Linked DNA regions of Homo sapiens. The protein of the gene in region 5 interacts with the protein of the main gene of each other region in a biochemical or structural test. Each region holds a gene or a part of one and is shown on either strand. Other genes may lie near its edges. The genes, in order: SLC6A3, CSPG4, NOS1AP, PTPRG, GIPC2, CBY2 and LPAR1.

Evidence for each region.
Region 1: the proteins of GIPC2 (region 5) and SLC6A3 interact in a test that uses a peptide from one of them, tested with the Homo sapiens proteins (one large-scale study listed by IntAct).
Region 2: the proteins of GIPC2 (region 5) and CSPG4 interact in a test that uses a peptide from one of them, tested with the Homo sapiens proteins (one large-scale study listed by IntAct).
Region 3: the proteins of GIPC2 (region 5) and NOS1AP interact in a test that uses a peptide from one of them, tested with the Homo sapiens proteins (one large-scale study listed by IntAct).
Region 4: the proteins of GIPC2 (region 5) and PTPRG interact in a test that uses a peptide from one of them, tested with the Homo sapiens proteins (one large-scale study listed by IntAct).
Region 6: the proteins of GIPC2 (region 5) and CBY2 interact in a test that uses a peptide from one of them, tested with the Homo sapiens proteins (one large-scale study listed by IntAct).
Region 7: the proteins of GIPC2 (region 5) and LPAR1 interact in a test that uses a peptide from one of them, tested with the Homo sapiens proteins (one large-scale study listed by IntAct).

Annotation. Positions count from the first base shown.
Region 1 is NC_000005.10:1,438,941-1,442,440, forward strand, and holds part of SLC6A3 (sodium-dependent dopamine transporter), read right to left. Parts: intron 2,551-3,500; coding exon 2,419-2,550; intron 1-2,418. UniProt on the Homo sapiens protein: Mediates sodium- and chloride-dependent transport of dopamine. Also mediates sodium- and chloride-dependent transport of norepinephrine (also known as noradrenaline). Regulator of light-dependent retinal hyaloid vessel regression, downstream of OPN5 signaling.
Region 2 is NC_000015.10:75,678,349-75,681,848, reverse strand, and holds part of CSPG4 (chondroitin sulfate proteoglycan 4 precursor), read left to right. Parts: intron 1-3,500. UniProt on the Homo sapiens protein: Proteoglycan playing a role in cell proliferation and migration which stimulates endothelial cells motility during microvascular morphogenesis. May also inhibit neurite outgrowth and growth cone collapse during axon regeneration.
Region 3 is NC_000001.11:162,072,691-162,076,190, forward strand, and holds part of NOS1AP (carboxyl-terminal PDZ ligand of neuronal nitric oxide synthase protein), read left to right. Parts: intron 1-3,500. UniProt on the Homo sapiens protein: Adapter protein involved in neuronal nitric-oxide (NO) synthesis regulation via its association with nNOS/NOS1. The complex formed with NOS1 and synapsins is necessary for specific NO and synapsin functions at a presynaptic level.
Region 4 is NC_000003.12:62,295,340-62,298,109, forward strand, and holds the end of PTPRG (receptor-type tyrosine-protein phosphatase gamma isoform 1 precursor), read left to right. Parts: 3' UTR 1-2,270; downstream 2,271-2,770.
Region 5 is NC_000001.11:78,044,469-78,048,765, reverse strand, and holds the start of GIPC2 (PDZ domain-containing protein GIPC2), read right to left. Parts: upstream 2,801-4,297; 5' UTR 2,672-2,800; coding exon 2,432-2,671; coding exon of another isoform or gene 2,282-2,431; intron 1-2,281.
Region 6 is NC_000013.11:45,700,901-45,705,119, forward strand, and holds the start of CBY2 (protein chibby homolog 2), read left to right. Parts: upstream 1-1,419; 5' UTR 1,420-1,490; coding exon 1,491-1,565; exon of another isoform or gene 1,566-1,615; intron 1,616-1,874; coding exon 1,875-1,955; intron 1,956-2,610; coding exon of another isoform or gene 2,611-2,691; intron 2,692-4,219.
Region 7 is NC_000009.12:110,874,471-110,877,970, forward strand, and holds part of LPAR1 (lysophosphatidic acid receptor 1), read right to left. Parts: intron 1,253-3,500; coding exon 951-1,252; 3' UTR 1-950.

The DNA.
Region 1 (3,500 bases), on a different chromosome or scaffold from region 5:
ACACGGACCACGGTGCAAGCTCAGCATCGCTTACGACTGCAGGCTCAGAGGCAGCACTCCTCTCTGAAACACGTCCGTGCCGCTGGCCAGGGCCAGGCAGGACACAGGTAACGCGTGTGTCTTGAACTGTTAGCCTGGGTTCACTGCAACGCCGGATTTGACACGCGCCCCTGTCTGTCTGTAACAACAGGCCTGGGTCTTCCGTTGGCTGCTGCATTCTTCCATTGGGGACCTGATATCAGGGACCTGACGACGGGGACGGAGGCATGTTCTGAGCAATTCTTGTACGGTTTGACTTCTACCTGCAGATCCCGCCAAGGGGTCGTCTGGCACCAGTGCATGCCCAAAGCATCTGTCTCTCACTCTGAAGATGTGTGTGGGGTGGGGGTGGGGGTGGGGGTGGGGAGGGAGGCCTCTTTTTGTAGCTCCATTTCAGTGCAGTCCAGTGAATGTGGAGCCCAGGAAGAAATTACTGAAGTCATAAGATTCACTAAGCAGCCCATTAAGAACGAATGAGTCTCGTGCCTGGGAAGAACCATCACACCTGTCCAGTCTCAGCATTTCCACGGCTGCGAGACTGACTTCTCCTCCTGGAGCCTGACCTCAGCAGCTGTGAAATGCCATCTGTTCCCTCTCCTAAGGGAGGTCAGCGGCTCGCCTCTGAAGGCCCACCCCTGACCCATTGGTAATGCGTCCTGGGGCCGTGCTGGGCTCGGCTGTCTTCTAAACACACAGCTTTTCCAGAACTTCTATGAGTATCCAGAGGCTGACCTTCTAGTAGTCATTTTCTTAATGCCAATTTTCTGAGTGGTGCCTCTGAGTAAATGCCTGAATCCTCCCTGAACCACCAGCCCCTGAGAGGTGGCTTTGGCCCACTGGGCAAGTGTGACCTGCGTGCAGGGATTGGGGAGTCAGAAACGTCTGGGATCAAATCCCACTCTGCTCTGATGGGGACACCAGGGGGAACGACCCCGGCCCTCTGGTCCTCAGCATCTGCATCTCCAACACAGAGACCTAGTGTGTGCCCTTCCCAGGGTCTCATGAAGATGGAGTCAGAAATGCTGGGAGAGGGCTTGGTGCTGGGCAGGCCACCTGCACTCAACACGAGGTGTGTCCATTTCATGGTGCCAGAGCAGGACATCAGCAGCCGGAAAGGTTCAGTGACAACTAGATGGATCAATAGCTAGTAGATAGGTGGATAGGTCGATAGGTGGATGGATGGATTAATCCATACATAGATGAATGGATGGATGGATGGAACAATGGATAACAGATGGATGAATGGATAGATGAATAGATAGAAGATGGATGGATGGATAGATCCATAGATAGATGAATGGATGAATGAATGGATGGATGGATAGATAGATGGATCGATAGGTAGATGGATGGATCAATAGATAATGGATGGATGGATGGATGGATGGATGATAGATCCATAGATAGATGAATGGATGGATGACTGGATGGGTGGATGAATGGATTGATAGGTGGATGGATCAAAAGAAAATAGATGGATGAATGGGTAGATGACAGACGGGTGAATAGATGATTGACAGATAATAGATAGATAGAATTGTGGGATGTGTCCCTCCCCCAAGTTCATCTGTTGAAGTTCTAACCCCGCAAACCTCAGAATGTGACTTTATTTAGAGACAAGGTCTTTACAGAGGTGATCAAGTTAAAGTGAGGTCATTAGGGTGTCCCTAATCCAACAGGACTTCTGGCCTCATAAAAACGGGGAATTTGGTTACAGAGATATGCATAGAAGCAAGAAGTATAAAGAGGCACAGGGAGAAGACAATCTCTGAGACAAGGAGAGAGGCTAGAACAGATGCTTCCTCACAGCCTCAGAAGAAATCAACCCTACAGACACCTTGATCTTGGACTTCCAGCCTCCAGAGCTGTGAGACAATAAACGTGTGCCTTTTAAGCCTCCCAGTTTGTGTCATTTGTTACAGCAGCCACAGGAAACAGATACAGATAGATGATGATGATAGATGGATGGATTAGGTAGATAGGTAGATAGATGGGTGAATGATTGATATAAAGACCAATAATAAAGATAGATAATGGATAGATAGATAACAGATGATTGACGGATGGACCGATGGATGATAGGTAGATGGCAGATCCATAGATAGACATGTGTTTTATCTTAACTACATTTTAGCATCTTGACAAAGTAACACCACAAATGAATTGCAGGACCCTCACCTAGAGCAAGGGAATGAACTATCCAGTCCTTGTCACTGCAGATCTTTAAGGTGGGACCCAAGTTCAAGTGGCGTGTGCCATGCCTGTGTCTTAGCAAAGCAGGGCTGGATGCCCATGATGCGGCTGGCTTGCTTTGAAAGCTCCAGCGTCACCACCATGATCCGCGCTGCGCCAGGGTGAAGGGAGGCACCCGCATATTACCTTTCAGTATGGGGCAGATCTTCCAGACACCAGCGGCCCCTTCCCTGTTGAACTGGCCGAGGGCCAGCTCCATGTAGAAAAGTGGCATCCCAGCAATGACCATGAAGAGCAGGTAGGGGACCAGGAAGGCACCTGTGGGGCAGAAAAGCACCTTTAGTTTGGGGCCTCGGAAGGGCCCATCTCTCCTCGTGGGAGCTTGGGCGGCTACCCCAGTCAACCATCCATGTCCTGGCCCGACCGTTTCACCCCACTCTCCAACGGGAAGTCCCAGGCTAGGGTAGATGAGTCCCGAAGCCCGCCCTCCACTGCTGTCAGTGCCTGACACGTCCCTCCTGGATCCCCTTGTCATTGCGCACCTCGAGCCATGAAGTCAAACCCAAGAGCAGCACAGGGAGGCCCTGCCCATGCTCAGCGGTGCTCTAGGTACTATCCTTCCCCGTGGTGGTTCGGGGTGCCCTTCCCTGGCCTGCGTCCCCCCACTTTGCCCTGATCCTCTTTGCCTCTTGAGTTGTGAATCTGTGACCCCCCAACTCTGCCCCTGAGCTGAGTGGGCCCTGCCGTCCTGTCCCCAGCTTCTGGGGCCCTCAGAGGCTGCCCCTATTGACTGTGGCTGAGGGTCTTTGCTGCCCCAGGTGCTGGGAGCCCCTCCAGGGTAAGGCCTAGTTCCTCTGAAACCTGCACCTCCCCCACCCCCAGCACAAAGCCCAGGGAACCCTGGTCTCAACCTCCTAAATTCCCTCTGCTCCCCTGGTCTGACTGGAGTGAGGGAGAGCTTTGCCACTCTCTCTCCTGGGGAAGGGGAGGGGGAGGCATGGGGCCCCTCAGCTCTGTCTTTGGGCAACTTCCTGTACCTGCTGAGGCCTCTGTCTTCCCCTCTTCAAGATGGGCATAAAAATGCCAGCCTCCTCGCAGGCATCCTGTGAGGCTTCCCCCCAGATTCTTCCCCAGGCCTCCCTTCCCAGACCTAGCATAGAGGCCAATGAGGGAGGCCAGGCAGGGAGGCTGGGAGGCCCAAAGAGGCTCCTGGGAAGGGATCACCAATGTTCTTGGACGTCCCCGGTGGCCCTGCCTCGATCTTCGCT
Region 2 (3,500 bases), on a different chromosome or scaffold from region 5:
CCAGAGGCAGAGTGGATCCTAGGGGCAGATGAGCTGATGAAAGGCAGCTGAGTCAGCCAAGAGGGTGAAGCTGCTGTTCATCCGTCCTGGTGGCTTCAGAGACCACCAGGAAGAATTAGAGCTCTCAGCCATGGGTAGCAGCAGACTCTCTGTGATAACTGTGCCATGGGGGCCAGCCCAGTCATCACTTAAATGAACACCACTCGCTGAAGACAGAACAGGAGTTGTTCCATAGCAGGGCAGAGCGGGGCAGACTCTTCCATGGGCCATCCCAGGCAGGCGGCACATGTGATGCTCCCGCCAGGAGGCTGCATGGGCATCTGGACCCAGCACATGATGACAGTGAATTCTGGGTAGGGAGTGGTCTTGTGGGGCGCAGAGCTGACTCTCACTCAGGAGCCACAGCATATGGTACTGCCCCAAGTACCTCCTGAGGGGTCCCCCTGCCAGCCTTCAAAAAATGGCAGAGCCCACCCCAGCCCCCTTTCCTAGCTCGGCAGGGACTCCTGAGCCTGGCACTCTCCCTCCTGAGAGGTGCAGATGGTATTCAGCAAGTGCAAAGGCAAAGTCCCTGCCCAGCAAGTGGCTCAGATTTGGGCATCTGGAAGGAGGTGGCTTTGACAGGTGGAATGAAGTTTCTTGGGCTTCTCACATCAACACCTCCCAGTCCCAGGTTCTGTATTTCCCTGGCTCCCCACTCCTGCTATGGCCCCCTCCCCACAATGAGATATTTGTCAGGCTGGTGTCTGCAGCTGCTGCGTACCCTCAGTTGCTGGGAGCCTTTGTCAAGAATGCCCAGGAATGGAGAGGGCACGGGACCAGGCCATCAGCAACCCTCTTGCACTTTATAGTCCCACGTTACTCAGAGCTTCCCCGTGCCCCAGAAATATGAAGGACTAGACTGAATGGACACCAGGGGGTCAGGCTGGCAGTGCCACCCAGGAAAGCAGGGAAGAGGCTACGTGGGCTACCCTGGCCCACTCTGGGAGGAGGGCAGGACTGGGTATTGTCTTGACAGCAGCCCTGTCCCACAACACTAAACTGGGCAGGGAAGGGGTCAGGTGTCCCCATTTTTCAGATAAGGAAACAGGCTCGTGGAGGGCAGGTAACTTTATTCAGAGCACATGGCGAGTAAGAGGCAAAACTTCTGCCTGCGAGTCCAGGATTTCCTTCACTGGAGGACACTGCTTGCTCCCCAGAGCTCAAGACCCTGTTTTTTGTCTCACTCCCACCCACAGAGCTCCCGTACCCAGGCATCAGCTCCCACTCCCACTCCTGGGGGCTCCATTTCCTTCCTGCCCACCATTCAGCCTGGGCCAGAAGTTGCCACTGGCAACTCTAGTCCTGGGCCAGATCTGGCCCACAGACGTGTTTATTTGGCCTACAAAAAGCAGCTAATACTTTGAAGTTAATTGTCAACATATAACCTTTGGGAAATTAAACAAAAAACTTGATTCCCATTTTCTTAAAAGGCCTGTGTTCCCTCTTACAGCGAAAGCAGGGGAGCAGCCACTTCCTTTAGAACAGGTGCTAGCCCCTATTCAGATAGCTCGGCTCTCCTTCAGACTGGGCTCAGCTGCCCTTTAGCCCAGGCTCTGCTCCCCTTAGACCAGGCCCTGCCCCCACCTCAGACTGGGCCCTGCCTCCCCTTAGCCCGGCCCTGCTCTCCCTTAGCCCAGGCCCTGCCCCATCTTAGACGGGGCCCTGCTCCCCTTACTCCGGCCCCTGCTCCCCCTTACTCCGGGTTCTGCTCCTAGAGTCTTCACAGGTTAAGACCCTGTTAAGTTTCCATGTTACTATTGGGCAAGTCCTGTTTTTCTCTGAGAAGAAAATAGTTCCCAGTGTTTCCTAAAAGGGGAAAATAAGGCCGGGCGCGGTGGCTCACAGCTGTAATCCCAGCACTTTGGGAGGCCAAGGCGGGTGGATCACGAGGTCAAGAGATCGAAACTATCCTGGCTAACATGGTGAAACCCCATCTCTACTAAAATACAAAAAATGAGCTGGGCGTGGTGGCACGCATTTATAGTCCCAGCTACTCAGGAGGCTGAGGCAGGGGAATCGCTTGAACCCGGGAGGTGGAGGTGGAGGTTGCAGTGAGCCAAGATCGTGCCACTGCATTCCAGCCTGGGCGACAGAGCAAGACTCCGTCTCAAAAAAAAGGGTGGGTGGGGAGCAAAAGATAGGCCAAAAGAACACATTGTGATTGGAGGTGGAGAAAACCGTTTTTCTTCCTGGAGCGAAGAATATTCTTTGGTGTTGAACTGCAGGCAGCACCATAGAACAGCAGGTGTGTCTGGAGTGGAGGTGAGGGGAGTTGAGGTCGCAGGGGTGATATGGTCACAGCCAGGCCTTAGTGGTCAGATGGGGAGACACTGCACTATGTGAGCCAAAGAGCCCCATAATCTTCCCTTTCAAAAGGCTCACTCTGGCTGCTGTGTTAGGAACAAAATGTAATGGGCGGGGGACTGCAGCTGGGACACAGGAAGCTGTTACGATAATCCAGGTGAGAGATGCGGTGGTTTGAGGGAAAGAGAGGATGCAAGGGTGGTTCCAAGGGTGTGGCCTGAGCCCTTGAAAACGGAGCTATAGTCTCTGAAGCAGGATGACTGTAGGAGGTGGGGGCCGATCGGGAGTGCAGCCGGGGCAGGTTGAGTTTGAGGTGTCTATTAGATATCGGCAGAGGTAGCTGGAAACATGAGTCTGGGGTTCAGGGGAGAGCAGGCTAGGCTGGAGCTACAAATAAGGGGGTCTCAGCACAGCTGGCATTTGAGGCCAGGAGACTGAATAAGGACTCATGGAGAGTGCCTGTAGACAGAAAAGAGCCTGGAGACCTGGCCATAAGATGTTGGGGAGAAGAGGAGGACCAGCCAGGAGAGTCTGTGAGGTAGGAGGAACCCCAGAGTGAAGTATCCCAGAGCCTGTGGCTCTCTTGGAGGAAGGGTTGCTTGGCGGCACCAGTGCCACTGAGCAGTTAAGAGGAGGCTGAGAGCCGACCGCTGGATCCAACAACACGGAGGCCTCTGGTGCCCTTGGCAAAAGGAGATGTGGCGATGGGGGAGCAAAATCCTGGGTAGAGAGACCCAAGAATGCCTGGGGGAGAGCGTGGACTATGCTTTTTGAAGTTTTGCTGCAAAGAGAAGCAAAGGGGCAGGGGTGAAGCTGGTGGAAAATGTGAAGTCAAGAATAGTTTTTTCTGGCCAGGTGCAGTGCCTCCTGCCTGTAATCCTAGCACTCTGGGAGGCCGAGGCAAGTGGACCGCTTGAGCCCAGAAGTTCAAGACCAGCCTGGGCAACATAGTGAGACCCTGTCTCAACAAACAATAAAAAAAAATAGCTGGGTGTGGTGGCATGTGCCTGCAGTCCCCGCTACTTGGGAAGCTGAGGTGGGAGGATCGCTTGAGCCCTGGAGGTCGAGGCTGCAGTGAGCCATGATCACGCCACTGCAGTCCAGTCTGGGCAACAGAGCAAGACCCTGTCTCAAAATAATAATAATAATAATTA
Region 3 (3,500 bases), about 84 Mb from region 5:
GCACATTCAAACACCATGTTAGTCAAGACCTAAGCAGAGGTGGAAGCACGAGCTTTTCTGTCCTACATGCTCCTGGTAAGAGCCTTCTCTGGCTGTTTTCCACATCCCTGCAGAGCAGTGTCTATGCAACTGCACAATCACTGGGATTTCAGGGTTAAATCCACATCGCAGTCTTCCCTTGTTTTGGAAAAATGCAGGCTGGAAAATGCAAATGTATTATTGTTGCCTTGTCGGGTACCCTTGGAAAATGAGTGCAGCTCTTTCTCTCCCAAGGGCTGGCAGTTTTTCAGAATCAACATTGGATTGAGTGTTCCTTTGGAAGTATGCCACTCATTTTCAGGGTTCTGCAGAGATTGAAAGGTGTGGGGTTAGGATCGAAGGGCATCTGGGTGGCAGAGGTTCTGTGCACTTAAAAACCCATGCATTTAGTTATCAAGTGCAATCCCAGATTTTTTTCACCTGCAGTACCTCATTTAATTCTCACTACTTCCCTAGGAGATGGGTCTCCTTATGTCTATTTTATAAACGAGGACATAGGCTCAGGGAGGTTGTTGCGTGCCTTAGTGCTCACAGTTGTGTATGACAAAGCCAAGATTTAAGCCTGGGGCTTTGACTTCAGACTCCCAAATCCAGTGCCTTTTCATTCAATAATTTTTATGGAATATTCACTCTATGTTGGCCACGGGTTTGAGTCACAGCTCTCTAGTGGAGTGTTCTCAGGTTGCTGGCCTCTAGAACTCTGGTACAGGAAATTATTCAAACATTTATTTATTTATTTATTTATTTTGAGATGGAGTTTTGCTCTTGTTGCCCAGGCTGGAGTGCAATGGCATGATCTCAGCTCATCACAACCTCCAACTCCCAGGTTCGAGTGATTCTCCTGCCTCAGCCTCCTGGGTAGCTGGGATAACAGGCATGCGCCACCATGCCCAGCTAATTTTGTATTTTTTGTAGAGATGGGGCTTTCTCCGTTTTGGTCAGGCTGGCCTCGAACTCCCGACTTCAGGTGATCTGCCTGCCCCAGCCTCCCAAATGTTGGGATTACAGGCGTGAACCACTGCGCCCGGCTCAAACTTTTAATGCTTGGCTGTTTCCAGATTTCCCTTTGGGCTGAGAGCTGCTTGCCAGGGAAACCTGTTGTCTGTGTTCAGAGTGGGTACCTGGCTTACTGACTGATGCTGGTGGGTGGGTAAATCTCACATGCCCTGAGAGCCTGTGGCTCCTTAGTAACTGCCTCCTGATCTCCCAGTATGTCTTCCTGGTGGCCAGTGCCATCAACTGACTGTCTCTCCTCTCTTGGTGAGAAAGAGACTTTTAATGCTATGGGTACAAAGGATAATAAGAGTATTAATAATAGTTATATCTTATATCTGTAGGTGATTTTTGATTTGCATTGGACTTCTACATACAAAGACTTTTCCTCTTATAGAGACAGGCACAGGCACATTAGTGTTATCTCGATTTTTCAGACCAAAAAATGGAGATCAGAGAGATTAATTTGTCCAGAGTTGCAAATTGGTGTATCAGTTAATGATATTTATTGAGCACTTACTATGTGCCATACATTATTCTAGCCTCTGCCTCACTTAATCCTCACACTCCAGGGCTTTTGACTCCAGGTCCATGGTTCTTTCACCTCCTCCAAGGCTCACTCAAACCTGAAGTATTAATAGTTGCTCCCTTTGTAGTCCTAACACTCATTGCCTAGATTGTTCCCTTATATCTGCGTGTATGATACAGATGGTCAGAACTGGAAAGCACCATGGCTCATCTAGTACAACCCCCTCACCCCATCATTGTACAGATGAGGAAATTGAAGTTTGGAGGGGAAGTCATGGACCCAAGGTCACATAGTCAGATAATAACAGAACCAGGACTTATCCCTGGTTCCCTGGCTTCAAACTGGTTTCAGTTATCCATCACTTCAAAACAAACGACCTCAAGACTCAGTAGCTTGAAACAATAACTGTTTAATTTGCTTATGAATCATGGCTCAGGAATTCAGGCAGGGCTTGGCTGGGCTGTTCTTCTGTTGCTTATGGCGTTGACTGGATCACTCACTTTGCTGCATTCATCCACAGCTAGGCTGGAATGTTCAAGAAGGCTTCACTCATATGACTGTGCCTTGGTCGTCCTTCATGTGACTATTCTCTTCACTGGCTGGCTTGGATTTCCTCACAGCATGGTGGCCCTTTTGTTTGGCAGCTGGTTTTCAGTAGGGGGTGTTCCAAGCAGGAAAGCAGAAGCTCTTAAGGTTGGGTCTTTCTGAGTTACATAGGGTCACTTCTGCCACATCCTGTTGGTCAAAACAGGCTATTAGGGAAGAGACATAAGCCCTACTTCTTGATGGGGGAATGTCAAGTTCACATTGCAAGATTGCACGTGGGATGAGAGATATTGCTGAAGCTGTTTACCACACAAAATTCTGTTTTTTCCTCTCTGCATATATCTTCTCTGGTGATATGGAATGTTCTTTGAGGACCTTGCCTCATGCCTTGGTGTATCTCCCCCTCCCAAGCCTCAACATCAGGTACAAACATAGTCACAATGAAAAATTGTCAAGTGGAAGAAATGACCAATTGTGGAAAGTCTGAAAGCAGTAAATATCATTGCTGAGTGATTTTGTGGCTTGGGAGCATGTGGTCAGATTGAAGCTGAATTCTCTGGCTATATTTCCTTCCTTGCTACCTGGCTTCATTGGTTGATGGTTTCCCTGATGTGGATTTTAGAGATTCCAGTAACCTCAGCAGGATATCTGTGGATGCCTCTTAAACATACGGCCATGAAGGCCTCCAGATGAATGACATTTGGTCACCGTAAATGGGGTATCCCTGACTCGTCTGAGCCTGCATGGCATGGTACAGAGCTCTCAGAACCATTCCACTATACACTGGGTGTTTATGTCCCCTTTCTCCCTTCTCTCCACCCAGACTAAGGGTCCTGTCTTCCAGGGTTCTGGAACAGTAGCAATTCAGATTAAGGGTCTGATGTATTTTCTGATGTCATCATTAAGGAGGAGACGTAGTTCACTTTCTTATGCTTTTCCAGATGCTTTTAAAAACACTTATCTTCTGCCCAGACTACTTTTTTTTTTGGTGGGGGGCAGTGAGTTCCAAAGATACAGTACTGCTCTGAAATGACACCTATTTTATTTGTCCTTACATTGCTCTCAGATGTCCCAGTATGTTCCTCCACACCTGGTATCTTGGGATTTGATGGACAAATCTATTTCCACGTTAGCTGTACATTTCATGATTTTATGGCTTTCAGTCGTAGTTCCTTTGCCCACAATGTCCCAGTCCTTTTTAGTGGTCAAAATCATGCAGCCACATCTAATGATGACCTTTGCCAGTTATCTATACTAATCAGGCTTGACTCACTGTTTACTATTGCCTACTCATAATGCAGCTACTCCCAAGACTCAAACTTTCAGAATGCTTTCGCTGGCTATAATTACCTGCCTTCCCTTTATACCTTTGTTGCCTTGAGGATGCTCTTAG
Region 4 (2,770 bases), on a different chromosome or scaffold from region 5:
TTAGATGTATAGAGTATTGATATGAGTTAACACTTTTTAGTAGATGGCAAAGTGGGCTTGATGTTCAAAAGTAATGTTCGAGTTAGGGTTCATGGTCCCTTTCTCAGTAATTTTTTCTTAATAAAAGTAAACACTGGTTCAAAGACAAATAGCAAGTATTCCCTCCTGTGCTATTTATAGAGGGCTCAATTCGTAGAAAGGCATACCCTCCAATGCAATTCTGTGGCTGTCCCTTACAGTGGTTTCAGAATCACGAAAAAACAGCTAGTAAATAGGATAGAAACAATAAAAGAAAGAGTTTAGAAGTTCCCTGTGAGCAATCTGTGTGTCTTCAGCGAGCTTGAACCAAAGTCTTCATATCCTGACCCACTGAATTATAAGCAATTGCTACTTGCCCATCTTGCCAAAGTAGTCCAAACACACTTCAATGAGGACAGTTATATTTAGCAGGTCCTCACCCCTGCAAGAGACAGCATATCCTCACTATTATTATTCATGTGTTATTGGCAAAAACATAGCTTGCATCTTTCCAGAGGCAGAGTTTCAAAGACAGGGTTTTCTTTGAGACATAAGCACATTGCTTAAGTACATAACAAGGTTATTAACACTTGCACTCAGGGGAAAGGAAATAGCTATTGCAAATTAATGTGTGCAACTTAATAAAATAAGCTGTTTGTGTATATGAATTTAGCTCTAGGTAAGCAAAATGCACACATCATATAAAAATAAATTGCAATGATCAGACCAAGTGGCTGTGCTGGACATCAAAGAAAAGACATGCTGTTGCCATCAGGAGAACTCTTTCTTATATGCGATAGCCAAGATATCTTCTTTAATATGAAAAAAGTTAATTTCTGAATTTCAAAAAGAGTAAGATTAGCTAATTGGTCTTCCTAATTTTTATGCCTTTAGAGTTTTTAGTCTATTCAAGTAGAAGAGTCCAGCGAGGCCAAAGAAGGGTTACGGTGTTCAAGTTCTGGTTGTTGGAGTTTTTAGCCCAGAGTGACATACTGAAATCAGTAAATAATTATTTTATAATGACACAGCACAACTGCCTTGTTATGAATTTTTCTTAAATGCATATATACTGTATTTAAAATTAAAATATAGATACCAATTTACCAAAGATACATATTACTAATTCTAAGCAAAACTAAAAAAAAAACCCAACTCATCATAATTTAAGAATCAAAATGTAGTTTGTCTTAAGAATTTAGTGGTTATACTGGAAATGCATTTTCAACTCCTATGTTCTAAAGTTTATGTTCAAATGGTGCCAGTGAATTTTTATATGAAGGGAAAATGCCTGCTTTTTTTTTTTTTTTAACAGATGTAATTTCACTTAACCCTTTGCGCTTTCCCTTAGTTGTCATTTAACATACAATACTGGCTTTACTTATCTCTAGAAAGAAGAAGGCATGCTACAAATAGGAAGGAATTGTAATAATGATATTTGGCCTCTACTTTGTCTTAGCTGTTAAACTGTTTTTAGTATTTTTGTTAAATATTTGCAAAGGGAAGCATTTTCTACAGAGGATAATTAATTTCAAGAAAAATATCTTGAGTTTTAAGAAATAAACATCTCCAGAAAAGGAGAAAGTCGATTTTATAAAATGTCGCAACTCTCCAACATTTGGGGTAGTGACTCCTTTTTTGTTAGGACATTTGAAACTAGCAAGCAGCCATTGTTTCTAAAGAATTCTGGCTTCACATTGACTCATGTTTCTTTCACTCCATTTTGAAATAGCTAAAAATCATTAAAACTGTAAATATTTTGTTGCTTGGGTAAGCATCTTCTGGGAACTTTGTATCTATGGTATATAATCATAGAATTTTATATTTTCATATAAAGCTAATTTTTTTCTAGTTTCAACTCCGTCATAGTTTTTTTTCCTTTTTGTGGTGGATATGTGAATTCAACTTTCTGTGTATTGAAGTAGCAAAAACCATCTTTACATTCCAAAAGAATCCAACATGTGTTATTTCTTTGAGGCAGTGATTGTGAAAGTTGGGTTTTCTTTTTAATTCCATTGACCATTTGTGCAATAGGAATTAGACATAATTAGTCACTGAAAACATTCGTCACATTGACCCATTTGGAAAAAGTGTGCTTTTTTTTTTTTTTTAAATTTGTTCAGGGGGAGGGGTTTTGTAACCTGAAATTTTTCCCTTTTTCTTCTGTTTAAACTATATCAAATCATTCTATTATAGTGTTATTTAATATGTAAATTGTATTGCTATACATAAAATAAAGTATGGTTTTTGATGTATTCAGTAGTGTTGAGCATTTCTATGAAAATGTCTATATCCAATAAAATAGGTTACTAGTCTCCCTTAACAGATCACATTAATACCCACCAACCCTCTGGTCTAAGTTTTCATGGTAGTAAAATGAACATTGGTAGTCGTCTTTACACAGGCAGCAAACCAAAAAGAATGGTCTTTGCTGGGTTGATTTATCAACGTTCTTTCTCCTTTAAAGAGTAAACAATGACAGTTTTACCTGCTCATCTAAGGAATCAAACTTTATTCAGTTTATGACTCTGCTGCTAAGTTGTGAACAGAATTACTATTTTCTCTAGTGTATCAACTAGGTTTGTAACAACTCTCTTAATATTTACGAGGTAGGATGAAGGATATATCCTGGCAAGAGTTCTGGAGAATCTATATGTGTAAGATCAGTACAATTGCTTCTACTTAACAAGAACTTTTGACATTTCCAAACAGGTATACAAGTCCCAAACTTGGCAGCTTTGGCCTACCATTCTGT
Region 5 (4,297 bases):
GAAAACTTGGGTAACAATATAGCTTCATGGGAGGAAAAAAAAAAGATGGGCACAATGGCTCCGTGTCTGTGTTATTCAAGAGACTGAGGTAGGAGGATCACTTGAGAGTAGGAGTTTCAAACCACACTGAGCAACACAGAAAAACCACATCTCTAAAAAAAAGTTTTTTTAATTAGCCAGATGTGGTGGCACATGCCTGTAGTCCCAGCTACTTGGGAGGGTGAAGCAGGAGGATTGCTTGAGCCTAGGAGTTTGAAGCTATAGTGAGCTATAATCGCACCACTGCAGTCCAGCCTGGGCAACAGAGTGAGACCCCATCTCATTAAAAAAAAAAGAAAAGAAAAACAGAAAACAAAAAAAAAGAATACACTGAATTCAAATCCAGGCTCTGCCACTTGCTATGTGTAATTCTGGAAAAATTCTGAACCTCAAAGTCTGTTTCCTCTCTGTGAAGTGGGGATATTAATAATAATACTTACTTCTTAGGGATTAAGTAGATTGAATAAAATCATGTACCTTGAGCTCAGAATAATGTCATATATAATGATGAGAAGTGTTAATGCAAAATACACATGCTCCTCTACTTACCAAGGTGTTATGTCCCAATAAATCCATTGTGAGTCAAAAATATCATAAGTCAAAAATGCATTTAATACCCCAATAAACCCATAAAGTGGAAAAATCTTAAGTCCAGGAAGTTACATCCTAATAAATCCATGGCGAAGTCAAAAATCTTAAGTCTAACTATCATAAACCCAGGACCATCTGTAACTAAAACTGAAGTCCCTGGTTACAGCAAAGACATTTAAAGTTGTCAGTTAAGTATGCTAACAAGCTCACTAGCTTAGGAATCAGAAGATCCAAGTTTAAATTACAGTCAAGTTTTTTTTTGCTAGGTATGTGACCTTGGCTAAGGGCCAATCACTTTGTACTTCAGTCCTTCATTTAACTGTTAGGTATTAATCATATTAGTTACCATGTATTAAGCCCTAACCATAAACTATGCAATCTGATACGTTTACATACGGACTCCACTCTTCACAATACTCTTCAAGACAAATATTCTAATCTCTATTTTACAGATGGCGAAAACTGAGAGAAGTTAAACTCATTCAAGTCCACACAGCTAGTAAAGGGTAGAACCTGGCTCCATGTCCAAGTTATCGTATTTAACCTGCCACCTGCCTCCCCTAGAGATCAAAGGAAAGTGTCCTGTGAAAGTGTTTTTTGAAAAAAAAAAAATCCTATATAAATGTGAAGTATTATTAGTATCCTATATCAATACAAATAATTCACAGATGGGTTTGCGATTTGCCCCTTAGTGCCTGGGAACTTCGAAAGAACAAAGGGTTACACTTTAAGCTCTCTTTCGTCTCCTCTTGGAATTTTGCCTTGACCTCAATTTCCCTTGAACAGACCTGATAAACAACTAATTAAAGAACTCCAGGTGCCGCTGTAGGCCTCAAAGACAGCTCTCTGCACTCCTCTGAGTCCAGGGCAACAAAATTATATGCTTTTCCTAGAAATGTGGACAAAATATTTTGTTGAGCTAACTTTTCACACCTACCTTTGCAGTTCACTTGGGTTAGCACAAATAAAGTGGTCACATAAACGTTCACATAAACTAGTGCTTTAGGTCATGCCTGTGTCAAACTTAGTTCCAGGCCCCCATGAAATCTAATTAAAGCAAATTTCAGTCCCTTTTTAAGGATACGATGTAAAAGAGCTGATCTTCCTCATGAAAATTTTGTTAACTAGTCCCACGTGATTAAGTATGAATCTCTAGGTTATCCACTCTTGGAATAACAGCCCAGCTTTTTAAACTTCTTGGAAATACCACCAAAGGGTTTCTGGTGCTGATGTTAGAAATGACAGATTGGGGGAAAGTGGGCCTCCGTTTGGTATTACCTGGAAGGCTCTTCAATGTTTTCCCCCCCACTTAATCTGGGTATCACCTGCAAGGCACTTCTATTTTTTTTTTCCCCCGTTAATCTAGGGAGATGACCTGCGTGACTCTCACGCCTGCGGAGGAAACAGGAGAGTAAAGTCCAGATGAAGTGGAGGGTATTAATCTGCCCCGCCAGATCTCGAGTCTGGGAAGGTGCTCACGCCTTGAACGGCCGGCGGAATCCGGGACATCTGGAGCAAACACATTTGCAAGCGGAAGAAAGGTTGCCTCCCTCAACCCGCTTCCCAAAGGCCAGATCTCGGAGCAAGGGGGACTGTGACTTTCTGCGGTCCTGCCAAGTTAAATTTTCCCTTCCAGGGAAGGCACACTCACTTTCCCCCGGGACGCCCCCGGCGGACTCAACACGGCATCGGATTTCGCGCTCCGGGAAACGCCGCTCAACCCTCCTGGGCCCACAGAAATACGCGCGGCGCGGCGCGGCGCGGCGGAGAGGCGGGAGAGCCTGAGCACCTGGCGCCTTACCTCCGACGGCGAGATTTCAAACGCGCCCGCGATCTGGGCGTAGAGCTCCTGGATGCTGGAGAAGCCCTCCACTCGGCCCGTGGCACTACCGTGCGCCAGCTGCGCGTGGAAGACCAGCCTGCGTGCGGGAGCCCGGGACGCTGAGAGGCTCCCGCCGCCCGCGCCCGTCGGCTCGCCCTCCACCAGCCCGGCGGTCTCCTTGGACTTGGCCTTCTTCTTCCCCCGCAGCTTCAGGGGCATCTTGCAGGGCCGAGAGCGCGGGCCCACCTGCGCTGCCGTCCGCCGCCTCCTCCCCCCGGCGCCTCGGACTTTGCGCCCCGGGCCCCGCGCAGGTAAAAGCAGCCTCCAATGGCAGCCGCGCTTCCGCCTGGCTGCGTCGGGTCAGGGCCCCGACCTCCACCCCTGGACCGGAGCAGCCGCCCGCCCGCCCAGCCTCCCCCGGGATGGATCTGGAGAGAAAGAAAGTTACGTAGTCCCTCATCCTATCACCAGGTTTATCCCTACTCCTTGTAAAAAATGGCTCTATTTACGTGAACGCCTGAGGATGCCGACGCTACAGAACAATACGCCTTAGAAGGCAAACACGCTGGCCCTTCTCTGCTTTTCATAAATCTGTAGTAGGCACCCACGCATGATTTGGCCACAGGCCTTCGGGTCCGTACGTCTGGACTTTCGGGGATAGGGATTTAAGTAGAAGTCAACCTTCGTCTGCATTTTCTGCGTCTTACGCTCTGCAGGGCAGAATTGGAAGAGAAAGTCACATAACCTTGAGCTTGGTGCTACGTTGTATTCATAAACCCCCTCAGCCGGGTCCTTGGCACCTCTGAGTTTCCCTTTTGCCTATTTCCTGGGCTGCTTCCTCTCCCAACATTCAGCACGCCTCCAAAGCCATTTGCCCCAGCTCTGCCCTTCTTAGTCTCTACAGAGGACCTTGCCTCATATAGTACAAAGAAAATTGAGGCCATTCGGTGTGAAGTGTGAGTTCCCTCAATTCCCTACCTCGCGTTTATTGCATTGTTTTCAAGTCCAGTCCCCTCCAACTACGCTTTTTACAACAAAGCAAAACAGTCTTGAATTATTAGCTACGAAATTTCCTCACTTCTCTGCTCTTAGAAGCACTGTGATCAGACTTTGCCCCCACACTACTGAAATTTCACTTACTATGCAATTTCAGTGGAGTGAAATCACTATCATATCTTAATTACCAAATACAAGTAATTCTTTTAGGTTTTTATCTTACTTGGTCTGCGTTGCCCATTTCATTCTTCTTAAATTTTGTCCTCTTTTGGCTTCCTTACCTCTCCTCTCCCCGTCCCCACCCTGCTCCTTGCTAACTGCTAGTCTCCAGGAGTTGCATTCACCGACAGTTTTTCCTCGACAAACTTCCCTTCTTACTTAGCTTTGCATGTTCTTCCTGTATGGTCACATCAACATTCTCGGTTTCACAGACGTTGTTGTCTACCAAATGTCTCCAACTCCAGCTTATTCTACCAGAAAGGGAATGTACTGTAGGAAACCCAAATTGAGACTGAACAAAACTGACCTCATCATTTCTCCTGCATCTATCTTTTCTTTTTTTTACTCCTGATTTCAGTTAATAGGATCACCAAGCACTCCCAGACCAGACATTGTGGAGTCGTCGTATCAGGATTTTTCCTCTTCCCTCACCTCTCACATCAATTCAGTCCCGAAAATCCATATTTCTCAACTTAAGGTTAGCAGATGTACTGGGGGAGGAGAGTCTTAAGAATTCTTTAGGAGGCCGGCGCGGTGGCTCACGCCTGTAATCCCAGCACTTTGGGAGGTGGAGGCGGGCGGATCACCTGAGGTCAGGAGTTCGAGATTAGCCTGGCCAACATGGTGAAA
Region 6 (4,219 bases), on a different chromosome or scaffold from region 5:
CAATCCTAGACAAGGTTGGGACTCTCATCCATAATCCTAAACCACAGGGTGGGACTTGAACCCACAGTCGTTATGATGAGTTCAAAGACAATTAAAAGTACAGGGGCATATTAACAAGGTACTCACCAGAAAGATGTCTAATCCAGAAGCAATTTATTTTCCCAAAAGAGAAGTGCCAAGGGAGCCTGAAGTGCCATGGTGGAGAAGAAGGAACCCTATAGTCGAGCCTCTGGACACCCTGGTCTAGGTGGCCACTCAGGATCAGTGCAGGGGGCCTGCACACCACTAGGGGCAACAGTACCTTGGACAGGCTGTTCGTCTCACCTGGGGTTCTAGTTTGTTAACAAGCAAAAGGGGCTCACTGCCCAATGTGCTAGAAGCCAACACTGACACCAAATTTTTGAAAAAAAGAAAAGCTTTATATTAAAAGTCACCTCTGAAGGAGACAGGAGTCAAGCTCAAATTTGTCTCTTTCTGCTGGCATTAAGGCAGTACTTTTATTAGAAAAGGTTCAGGGGGTGGATTCTGAGATTAGTAGGTGATTTGTGCAAGGAAAAGGGAGGTCTGGAAAGTCCTTGGGCATGCATAGTTATTTCTTCATGTTAACTCCTGAGTTGCATGGCAAATTCAGGGAGAGTTAGTATGAAACGTGGTGGAAATTCAGGCTATGACATCAGCAAGCTTATTCTGTGCAAGCTCCAGTTAGCCATCTTGGTTCCAACCAGTTTCAGCCAGGTTTTTCTTGATCTCACAAGTGGAGGGAGTTTCAGCGGCTTAAGTTTCTTTTCTTATCTGCTATCTTGAAACTCAAAAATTAAGTAACTGGTTTCTTACTCTTTGGGACTTTCCAGACCTCCCATTTCCATCCACCAATCACCTACTAATCTCAGAATCCACCCCCTGAATCTTTTCTAATAAAAATACTACCTTAATGTCAGCACAGAGAGACAGATTTGAGCTTGACTCTTGTCTCCTTGGGAGTTGACTTTCAATATACAAGTTTTTCTTTTTTAAAGAACTTAGTGTTTTAGTATTGGCTTCTATTGCATTGGGTAGTGAGCCGCTTCAGCTCTGTAACACTAACTCTGGTAGATAGCATCAGGATGAAATTGAATTGTAGGGCACACAGTTGGTGTCAGAGAATTAAGGAATTGAGTAGTGTCAGAAAACACCTCAGACTACACTTTCTCCCTTGGTATGGGAAGAGTTCAGTTTGTGTTTCTTTCTTCTTGAGTGACCCAACTCCAAGAAGATGCCACTTCTGGAGAGAGAATAGGGATCTCAACTTAGCCTGGCAGTGAGAATACGAATGGCAGCTGGAATGACCCAACAGGGGGCTAATGTTTGGGCTATTGTGTGTGTCACACTGACCCTGACCAGCCAAGTAGTCACAGCACCCACAAGCTCTTCCTGCCTGTCAGATGCCTCATTCCCACCTGTGATGCTCAGAGAGAAACCATGAGCCCTGAAAAACACCATATTGTTTTGTGATGTCACCTCTGGAATGTTCTGAGTGTTTTGGTGACCAACTTCTGCATAGGACCTATACCTGGCAACTCACATTGGTATGGCTTTTTACTTGAGATAGAAATAATCATCTTAGACAGGGAAGCAGGTACAGCTATCTCCACTTCAAAAACTTTCAAAAGCCTTTTACATCAACTATAATATCTAGCTTAATATCTGTTCAGAGATTGATAAACCATCATGCCAGATATCATCTACACGTTCTTTCAGACTCAGACTTTCATAATTGTACATAATTGACAAGAGAGAAATAAATGAGTAGAAAGTTCTGTGTTTTTTAGGCGAGCAATTGAGGCCCAGAGGATGAGCTGGGAAGCAGTAATCTTCTTCTTTTCTCGTTTCCACAGCACTCAAGGCCAAATTATACAAGAAAAAGAGATACCAGATCTGAAAGCCTAGAAATTCCAATCAGTGTGGTTCTACCTCAGGTAGGGATAATCACAGAAGGATGTAACCTATCAGTGTTAGCCAGAATAACCCCCCATCTCCTCCTTCAAAACTCTAGCAAGATGTTGTAGAATAAGCAGAGATAGTCAGGGCTTCAGATTATAGTTTGGGTTGGGTGCCAGCAGGCGGTGTGCTGGGGAAGGCCACATAGCCCCTCTGGGCCTTGGGTTCTTTTTCCCATGAATGAGGTGGCTGGGTCAGATGATCTGGTAAGAACTTCCAGTCCTAACATTCCAAGTTTCTATGATACACTGAAGTAACCCAGCCTTCTCAAAACGAGATCTTTTGGTGCTTAGTGTTGTGCAATCACTCTGGATTTCTGGGGGAGAATTAGAACTGGGACTTGAAATCAAATGCATAAGAATGAATCCATGAGAAGAAAACCTCATCCGTGGACAAAGGGGTACAGAGTTATTTGGAGCTGTCAAGAGAATTAAGCCCTGCTATGCATCAAAGACAGATGTAGGGGCCATGGGCATAGATGCTTTTTCAGTCAATGAATTGGTGAAGTCCTCACAGGCTATAGAGTCTCAGGTCTCCTCCTGCCTGCAATCAGCTGTTTCCTTAGTGGAGTCCTCTTGATTGAATTGTTTCTACTGCTGCTATGTCACAAAGGGGTGGCTTTGCTTTCTCCAGAGTCACCTAAGTCCTCATTGGAAGACCAGGGCCATGCAACCAGAGGGGTTGAAATGTAGGATGGAGGAATCCAATGCAGAGGTAACTATCTGAGAGCTCTGTCCAGGGATGTGTAGGAGGAGGATTGACCACTGGTGGGCATTCCATATATATAATTGTAACAATCTAGGCAAGTATGTTCAGCGGGAGGCAAAAATATGGAAGAAGAAAACATCCTGGATGTTTATTTTCACATTATCTTTATAACTTTGTAATGAACAGTCACTTTTCTGTTACTTTTAGCCCATGAATCTTAGCCAGAATATAAGATAACTTCCCCCTGATCATTCAACAAGATAACAAGCTGTAGGAATCTTTTTGGGCCTGATTCTTTCCACCTGAAATACGCAGGGAGTTGTGTTAGCCACTACTCCCCCAAGAGTGGGTGTTACTGCTGTGATTCCTCATAGCCCATATAAACCAATCTTTTCTTCCAGAATCCTGGGGCCCCTCAACTTTACATGCTTTGAAAGTACCTCAGATGGCTGAATGTTCTCTGATAGTAACCCTCGGTAATGTTAGCAAAGTTGGTGTTTAAGAAACTTGGTCAGGCAGAGGATGCCAACCTAGGGGTGGGTGTGAAGGAGGGGGTAGGATTTGAAAGAGTAGTGGTCATGTGATAGAGAAATTGGAATGATGTTTCCATCAACACCCACCGCAACTTTCCCTCCCCAGCTCCCAGAAACAGCCCAACGATCAAGGAGAAGAGAAGGTGGTTTAAGACAGCTCAAGCTTGTCTTGGGGCTGCCTGCTTCCTGTGCTGGAGGACCTGGTGCTGCTGCTGGGGTCTTGTGGGGCAGAGTGGGTGAAGAATGAGAGGATATCTCCTGTCTGGGCACGTGTACCTCACAAGGGCAGATGCAGCTTCGTGCGTACACCTGCCAAGAGGGCACAAGCCATGCACCAGGTTTTGGACACCTGTCAGGATGCTCAAGACTGGCACTCTGGGGGATGGGTGTGGGTGTCTACAACTAGATGATCCGAACCAAAATACCACCAGGCCTGCGAGAGGGACCAGTGTGCTCACTCTACCTCCCTAAATGAGATGGCACATGGCTTAGGGGACAGGGTTGATCTGGGAAGCAAGGAGAGGAAGAAATATTGACTGAATGTTGGTGCGATCATGTGTCGGGCATGGGGCCAAGCAAGTGTGAGGTAGAGATTTTACAGGTACAGGAACCGGCAACCCCAGGAACCCCACTAGTAATGGCAGAGCTCGAGGAAGGGGCTTGAACTCAAATCAGTGCCCATGTTCTCCGCTATACTAGGGCACATGCCAGTAAGCTGGGCCATGCTGCATCTTAGCTCCATGGTTCTTCTCTTGCTTTTTGGAGATGGAGTCTTCTCCCTGCATCTTAACCACTCATCTCTGGGCTTCTTATTTTGTATTTGCCAAAAGCTGCTCTATTCTGGGATGGAGTCCACTTTCCATTTGTTTCAGAAAGGACTTGTGGCAGCAGCTCTGTCTCCAGAGACTGCCTCTGGCTCCCAGCTGCCAGTCCTGCTGTGCGTTTGGGCTTCTCAATTACATTGGAAATGCCTGTGATCACTACATGTTATCACCCTAAGG
Region 7 (3,500 bases), on a different chromosome or scaffold from region 5:
TGATATTATCAGTAATCATTTTTGCTTTTTTATACATTTCTGCATTTTTCAAGTTTTCTATGATGAGTATATTATTTTACAAAGACTACGAAAATTTTCCTCTGATATACTGGTAATTAGAATGTACTTGGGTATTTTAAATATATGGGAACAATATTATAGTGCTTCATCTTCTATGACTTTTTTGGAATACATATCACTTTGGTAATAAACTTACATTCCCTGTTTTATACTTGTTACAACATTTTAATTAAACAGTTAATATTGTGATTAGAGCATTGTTTGCTTCATGACCTAAACAAATACTGGCTTTGAAGTCTAGGTTCTATTTCCTAGAAGATTTAACATTAGTATCCTTTTAATCTTTTTAAGTAAGGCATACTGCATACATACATTACATGCATGCTTTCTAAACAAAAGATAATTCCAACTTACAGTTTTCCTATGTAAGGGAAAAAATGGAATTATGGTAGTTTAAAAGCAGTCCATAGTCTCATCCATCACAAACATGCTGATAGGCATAAACGTGTTTATTAAGTGAAACGTATCCTTTAAAAATAAAAAAGGGAAGCCTGTATATAAATGAAGTTGTGGATTCAACTAGCCAGAATTTATTCTGACTTGCACCAAACCACACAAAATCTTTTAAAAGTCTAGTTAGTGTAGTCTAAATGGACACTCCAGAGTCTGTTCTTGAATTCCATTGCAAGAGCTCCAACTTCCTACTTTCAGAAGGGATGGGGATCAAGATGAGGGTTGTCACATAAGCTAATTTTCAATATATATCAAGTCTTGTGGGGTCCAGGAACAAATACTGTCATTGGTTAGTGTTTAAGTACATGAGTTGACTTTTCTCCTCTCTCACACCCCACCTTGCCCTGGCAATTGGGTAGGGGGAGGCTGTTTATCCTCCAAGAGAGGACGGCTGGTTCCTCATCTCAGTTTCCGTTCTAAACCACAGAGTGGTCATTGCTGTGAACTCCAGCCAAGATGGTGTGGTTGAGGGAGGAAGCCGAGCGGTCTGAGCCTTCTGTGGGGCCGGTGGGGTTCTCACTGCGCTGGCAGCAGAGGATCTGCCTAAAGGTGGCGCTCATTTCTTTGTCGCGGTAGGAGTAAATGATGGGGTTCATGGCAGAGTTGAATTCAGCAAGGAGAAGGAAGAATTTCTCATAGGCCAGCACGTCGCACTGTGGACAGCACACGTCTAGAAGTAACAAAACCAATCCAGGAGTCCAGCAGATGATAAAGGCCCCTACAAGGACAAGGATAGGGATCAGAAGGATTTTTAAAAAGAGAATGAAAAAATATTATAAAACATGCGACCATAAAGTGAAATGATTTCAGTTCAATATAAAAATACTGAAGTTGGAAGCCACCATTGTCGCAAATGAAATACTCATTTCCTGAGAAAATCAGAAAAAATTTAACGATAGTCAACTTAAAATTTTATTTTGGACGTTACTAAAATCAAGCAATTATGAGACATTGATGATTATTATTTTGAGCAAAACACAAAGAGTTTGATAAGCAATTGAGATATGAAAAACTGCATTCAGGAAACACTTCACCTCACATAACAACATGGTTTTTAATAGCAGTGTTATTTTCAGGCAAAAGATAAGCACGAATGATAAGTGTCCTTTAATGTTTAATTAAGGCATAGTTTCTGGATTCAGGTTGTCTGGGCCCAAATCTTTGTTTGACATGTAATAAACTGGGTGAACTTAGGCAAACTACTTTCTTTCCTTAATTTTCCCATCTGAAAATGCAGATGATTATATTTACACCTCATAAGGTTTGTTGTATGGATTAAACAAGTGTTAAGGAAATAATCACTCAATCTGTATCTACAATAACAATAATAATTATTACCTGCTGAGTAGCATGGGCCTGTTTGGAAATTGTGATTTTCAATGACAAGATCTATGTTTTATTTTTATTCAACAACTACCCACATAGTGCTGTCCTATATGCTTTACCAGTAATAATTTATTGAATTTTCACAGTAGCCATATGACATAGAAACTAATATCCCCATTGTACAGATGAAGGAACTGAGACCCAGAAAGTTTATATAACTGGCTCAAGGCCACAGTACTGGAAAGCAGAAAAATCCCAGAGTTTCTGTTCTTAGAGGCTGCCTCCAGAGTTCAAGCTCTAGAAAATATTACATTTCTATATCTTGAAAATGATAACATTAAATATTTTAAACCAAATTTACTATTTCAGATGTTCTACTAATTTAGATCAACTTTGTTCTCTTTCTTCCCCCAATTATTCTGAATCATTACAATTTTACTATAACTGTAAGAGGAATGAAAATATAGATGAGATGCTTAATTCTATTTCATTTAGTTTCTGAAATCACTCATCATTTGGATCCCAGGAAAATGGAGGTTGTAAAATAGCATTAAATCCTACCACTGTGTTACTCCAGACTCTGCTGGGGATCTTCTACTGAAAGAACATGAGCCAACAGCGGTGGGCACCACTGTGTCCCATTACACCTCACCTAATGGGCCCCATATGTGTAATCAGGCAGGCTACATATGTGTAATCAGGCAGAGCGGAAGTAGGAGCAACCCCAGAAGGGCATTTGCATCTTCAGATTTAAATGGCGCTGGCTTTGGTGGATGCAGGCTTGGACTGGGGTCATGGATTTGGTCCAGCCTCAAGGAATTAGTTTCACAAAATGTAAACAAATGAGATTTAGTCTCCAAACAGCCCACTTTTGAATCTGAGCTTTCTTTTGTGAAACTTTTCAGCAGGGAAATGAAAATAAAGGAGAAAAGTACCCCCATAAAGCTCTTTGTTCTACAACACAAATGTGTATTGGTTTTAAACTGCTGTTCACTTTGAAGATTGGCCAAGGTACTTCATTTTCTAATAAATACAACACCTTAGACTTTCCTTGGAGAGAAAAAAATATTTCAAATATCAGGAGATAATAGCCAAGGAGCAATTTGAACTTCAATAAAAATGTTAATAAAGCATTCATTCCAAGTCCTTGAATTTCCTTGCTTGAAAATCACTCAGAAAGCTAAACATAAAGGAAAATCAAAGGAATGCCTCTTGGGTTTCAGAAATAATGCATTATTCATTGAGAAGCCAGGAAGGGAATTATTCTCAGGATGGAAAATGCTTGGATGGAAAATGCATGGTCCCATTATGCCATTTACTTGGAAACTAAAAACACACAGTCCCTTCATGAATGGAACAGCATTCTTTCAAGTTTCCTTTCCCCTTCCTTTTATCAAAGCTCTAATTGAGTTCAAATTCAGAACTTGATTAGACACAAGGAACATGCATCTCAATAGCTAGATTTTAAATAAAATGATCTTTTTCTCCTTCTGGGCAACAGAAGGGAATATCTTTATTCTCTCATACTTAAGCTGCTTGACTTTGCTCAAAAGTGAGAGAATTCAAACACTGTCATTTGTTGTTTATAATTTCTTCCCATGTTAAAATTTAAAAGGTGTAAGATCTTTCCAGAAAGAGCC